Linked DNA regions of Homo sapiens: region 1 is linked to region 2. Evidence: fine-mapped expression QTL. Tissue or cell type: lung. Region 2 holds a variant in brackets; the other region holds the start of a gene. All regions are shown on one strand. Distances are between the middles of the regions.

Region 1 (2,500 bases), 78 kb after region 2:
GGGAGGCTGAAGCAGGAGAATGGCGTGAACCCTGGGGGGCGGAGCCTGCAGTGAGCCAAGATTGTGCCACTGCACTCCAGCCTGGGCGACAGAGCGAGACTCCGTCTCAAAAAAAAAAAAAAAAAAAACTAAACAAAAAAAAAAAGCATGTTGGATACAACCTACTCTCAAATAGTTCAGTAAAAAACAGTAGCACAGGTACAGCCAAGAGGAGCCTGAATAGTAGTAACATACAGCAAAAAGTTAACCCTGTAGAACCTAAGTAAAAATTAAAATAAAAAAAGACCAAGGACAACCAAATTTCTTCCGGGCAGGAAAGAAAATGGAAGCGTGGGGCAAGCAGTACAGGAGCAGGGGGAGTCTCTTCTGGAAGGCGTGTTCCACTGAGTCACACATCAGACAGGTTAGGGAGGAAGAGCCTGACCAGGGACTATCGCTGTGCCAATCACAGAATCCCCTGCGGCCTTGGTTAAGGGGATGGTTTCTGAAGCCTGGAGGCAGCCAGAGTGCAGTGCAGGGGGTGGGGACGGCCTATGGCTCAGACGGTGCTGAGCCAGCAGTGTGGAGACAGCTGCGGAGGACAGAGGGTCTAGGGAGGCCAGGCAGAGCGACAACTGATAAAGAAGCACAGGGGCGGGACCCAGGCCCAGATCCGGTCATCAAAGGAGGCCAGACTCAGGACCATGGAATACGTGCTGGGGGTGGGGGGTGGGGCGTGAGTTTGAAAATGAGGGCGCTGGTTGCTCCGGGAGCCCCCTCCACCTCAGCCAGGGAGCCTCACCTCACCTTGTGATAAACCTCCGGTGGGGAAGTGACCAGGGTGGGGCAGAAGGAGGTGACGCCGTGCGACAGGATCCTCCGGGCCACGAGGGCAACCCCCGAACCCACGTCCTCCGTGGCTTGAGAGAAGTCAACACCAAATCCACCTGCAGCCACAGAAAAGGAAGTGTCGCATGGAGCTCAGAGCTCCTCCCCTGGGTTCCCCTGCCGGCCCCGGGCCGCACCGTTGATCTGCACGTCGATGAATCCGGGAGCCAAGATGCGGCCCCCGCAGTCCCGCCGCTCGTCGGCCACGCGCCGCTCCTCAAAGAACAGCTTCTCTGGGTCCAAGATGCGGCCTCCGCGCACCCACAGATCCTCCCTGGGGACGCAGTGGGTGGGCGCTCGCATCGCGGGCCTGACCTCGGCCCCGCACCCTGCACCCCGCCCGGTCCCCGGCCCCGCACCCTGCACCCCGCCCGGTCCCCGGCCCCGCACCCTGCACCCCGCCCTGTCCCCGGCCCCGCACCCTGCACCCCGCCCGGTCCCCGGCCCCGCACCCTGCACCCCGCCCGGTCCCCAGCCCCGCAGTCCCCGGCCCGCGCCCACCTGAGCAGTTTCCCTCCGCGCAGGATCCGGCAGTTAGTGAACTGGAGCACGCGGGCCCCCGCCGCGCCCTGCTCGCCGCGCATCGTGAGCCGTGTCGGGAGCGAGCGGCTCCGGAGCCCCGCGGCGGCCAAATCCCGCGCCCAGTGACGAACCCCAGCCGAGAGCTGAGACCGCGCCCACGTGACCTTCAGCTGACTGAAGCGGCGCGCCACGTGACCGCCGCGCCCACGTGATCGAGCCAGCCCACGTGACCGGCAGCGCCCGGCGCCCGCCCGCCCGCCCGCCCGCCCCCGCCCCCAACAAGCTGAGCAGACACAGGCCCGTCACATCCAAGAACTTTATTGGACACAGCTCCGCGCAGGGCCACGGGCCCGGCGGTGAGGGCGGCTCCATCCAGGAAGTCTCAGCAACAGGAACCCACAAGGCGACACTCTAGCTAAGGTTATAGATAGCTGGGAGACAAGGGCCGCTCCGCAGACGCAGGAACAGGCCAGATCTTTATAAATAAACATCCAGTAAAGAGAAATGACAATTCTAAATCATCCGCATACACAGAGCACTCTAGGGGGTGGGGCGCCGGGGGCCTGGAGGGGCGATGAGTGGGCCCAGATGTCCACGGCACGGGGCGGGCGGGGGCAAGGCCGGGGAAACAGACGATGGGCACTAGGACACTGCGCATGTACAAGACCAACTACTGGGGGCGGCGGCCCCGTGCGTATGTGTCAGGCTGTTCGTTCTGGAATGAGGAGGGGTGGTCTTTACATAATATTCTGTGGCTGGTGGGCTCGGAGAGGGTCTACTTTGTGGAGAGGATGAGGGCGACGATGAGACCGTAGAGGCCGAGCACCTCGGCGAAGATGAGAATCAGGATCATGCCCACGAATAGTCGGGGCTGCTGGGCGGTGCCCCGCACGCCAGCGTCCCCCACGATGCCGATGGCAAAGCCGGCTGCCAGGCCGCTCAGGCCCACGCTCAGGCCGGCGCCCAGCTGGAGGAAGCTCCTGGGGGCGAGAAGAGAGGACTGACATCAGCAGCCTGCCAACCAGGGGGAGACAAGGGTCCGGGTCACCACCCACAGGTGAACCGCCCCCCTCCCTGCAGTCCTCCAGCCCTGGGCAGGGGCCTGACCCCA
Region 2 (2,748 bases):
TAAGGAAAGAAAACACACGGGCCTTTCAAAAGGGAAGAGCAAGGGGCTGGGTGAGGAGAAAGGTGACCCACAGAAGGGCTTGGCTGTCAGCTCAGGCAATGGCATCATTTTGGCTGGCGGCTGCCAGCTCTGGCTCTGAGCCCCTAGTTCTGTGGCTTTGGAGGTTAAGATGGAGCTTGTCAGTGACGCCCAGGAGGTGGTGGTTCTATCCAGAGGAAGAACGCACGGAAGAGTCTCCCCAAGCAGCCCAGCCGAGTGCTCCAATTAAAGCCACGTCCCTGCTCCACTTGTTTCCCTATAACCAGACGCCCTGAGAGATCTGAGAGAGCCACTCTCCTACATGGAGACACAGGACGTTCTGAGATGGGTAAAATAGCTGATGAGGAGGAGGAAGCCTGAACAGAAATTCCTGAAAGGGCTAAGAGAGACTCCCCAACACAGCCAAGCCTTTCCAAAAGCCAGGAGGAGGAGAGAGGACTCCGACTCCGGCCACAGGCCCAGGGCAACGTGCTGGGCCCCGGAGCGTCCTGCTCCCTGGGGCCCCAGGGTAGGTGCGGCCCAGCTCACCCCAGCTCACGGTCACAGGCTCACATGCAGCTCTCACACAGCAGCAGCCAAGGCCCAGGCAGGAACCACAGGCAGGGCCTGGGGAACATCTCTGCCCCCTCCCAGGCCCCGTCTGTACTCGCCTAGCTAAAAAGAGCCACTCTCGTCATTAGCAGTGTAAAAACGACACCTTCCCTCTCAGTTTGGATCTGGCCTGGCACACAGGGTCACTGCTGAGTCACCTGTGACTTGGGGGTAGGGACCAGGGAGGGTGGACACAGTTGAGTCAGAGGCAGGTCTGTGGGCAGCAATGTCTGCCTCTCCCCCAAAGGGAGTGAGGGCTGCCCTCCAGGGACAACCTGGGCAGGGAGAGAAGGGCCCAGACCTGCCAGGCCACCAGGAGCACTCTCTACCTGGGGAGTAGCTAGGCAAAGGACAAATGCATCTGGCCTGTCTGTGCTGCAGAGCGGGGCAAGGCCACCAAAGCATCAAAGGGAAATGGCCCCAAAACCGGCTCTCTCTAGAGGAAAGCCGACCAGCAAGCTGGGGTTGAAGTGTGCTGTTCTCGCCTCCTGTGCAACAGCAACTGGCAAAGCCCACTCTATGGGCCCAGATGAGCCGGCAGCATGAGAAG[G/A]CTGTGAGATTTCTGATGCACAGATGTAGAAGCTCTGAGGGGCTCTGAGAAACTTGAACCAAAACACAAAAGGGGCGTGTGTGACGGTGGTGTCTGCACTCCCTGGCGTGGTCTGCAGGAGACAGAAGCACCCTGGGTCTGCTGATGCCAGGGTTCTCTCAGACCCTACTTCAGCAACTGGAGAGGCGTGGACATTTAAACCTTTTAGGAGGCCCTCAGGCCTCTCTGCTCCACACGGAAGTCAGCAGCCCTCTCTGCTCTGGCTGGCTTCTCCAAGGCACCTCCTGGCCCCACCTAGGGCTCGGGGCAGGACTCTCTCGTGCAGTGAGCCAGCGGGGTACTAACTGGGCTCACTTCTGACAGTACCGCTCCCAGCATGCGCTCGGCTTCCAGCCCCAGAGACCAACACTGCTAAGTAGGATAAGGGATCCGGAGCCCTCGATGGCACCCTCCACTCGGCAGCCTGCTCCCGCACCACTCCAACCCCTCCCGCTCCTCACCACGCAAACCTGCCTGCCAACACAGCAGGGGCCACAGAAAGCTGCCACCAGAGCCACCACAGGGATATGTAATGGGCCCAGCCAGGCCTAAGGGCCCATCACAGGGAGACGCAAGAAAGGGAGCAGGTGACAGAAGCACGGCGGCTCCCTCCACAAAGCTGCGGCCCCCGCAGGGCTCCCTCCCTGGTGAAGAGTTCCAGGACCACAGCGGGAGGGGCATAAAGAGCCAAACACACCCGGTCCCCTCGGCCACAGCAGGACCAGCACACAGTTGGGGCAGGGCGGGCGCATGGTTCGGACTGATGCTAGGAAAAACTGGTGACACCAGGTCTGTCCACTAGTCTGGGCGGGACTGGGTTGACGTGCATGGAGCTGGGTCCCCACGGCAACGAGGGCACACGGAGGCCTCCACGGAGCACAGAGAGCAAGCAAAGCGACCCTGAATTCCTTTGTGTTTGTTACTGGTTTTGTTCTTTGTGTGGTTGGGTGTTTTTTTTCTTCTTTTCTTTTAAATAAAAATGCTGCAAGGTTTCCGCCTCTGCGTTCCCCTTGTGATGGCTGGCAGGTGGTCTGGAAGCGTCCCGGATGGCGGCCAAGCCGCGCTGGGGCAGGTGTCCTGGCAGCGAAGGGCAGCCCGGCCGCAGGCCACGTCACTGCACAGCGGCGTCCGGGTGGCTCTGGTATCGCTGCCTCCAAACCTCCTGGATCTTCCTGCACCACTTGTGTGCGTTCCCGCTGGGGTCCATCAGATAATACGTCCTGTTAGGCTGCGAAGACAGAAGCCGTTTAGTGTTCTCCAGGGAGTCCCACCAAAACCCCCACCCCAACCTGGTGAGCTGCCTGCGACCAGCCATTCCGAGTCCTGAAAGCACGTGGGTGTGACGGTTATTCACACAAGCAGTAAGCAACTACACAGGCTGATGACCACCACCCCCAGTCACCACCAAACTGAAAAACAAGCACAGGGTGTCCCCTGCCCCCTCAGGACTGAGCCACTAGTGTGGGCGTCTGGGATGTCGGAAAGGGCGAGGCAGCTGCCCCGATCCCCGCTGCTCCCTCTGGCCAAGG

The links. PIP is the estimated chance that this variant, and not a neighbour inherited with it, causes the effect.
Region 1: it holds the start of AMDHD2, and the variant in region 2 is fine-mapped to the expression of AMDHD2 in lung (GTEx, PIP 0.98).

What each region holds. Positions count from the first base shown.
Region 1 is chr16:2,519,410-2,521,909 of GRCh38, reverse strand. AMDHD2 (amidohydrolase domain containing 2) reads right to left here and starts at 1,539. Exons shown (of 11, transcript NM_001330449.2): 1 at 1,369-1,539; 2 at 1,005-1,141; 3 at 787-926. The coding sequence starts at 1,451. ATP6V0C (ATPase H+ transporting V0 subunit c) reads right to left here. Exons shown (of 3, transcript NM_001694.4): 3 at 1,692-2,369. The coding sequence ends at 2,165. RefSeq lists silencers at 1,324-1,393, 1,564-1,673.
Region 2 is chr16:2,597,350-2,600,097 of GRCh38, reverse strand. PDPK1 (3-phosphoinositide dependent protein kinase 1) reads right to left here. Exons shown (of 14, transcript NM_002613.5): 14 at 1-2,447. The coding sequence ends at 2,331. Among named protein-coding and RNA genes, the nearest start is that of FLJ42627, 40 kb to the left of the region's middle. The variant G/A (reference allele first, on the strand shown) is at 1,181.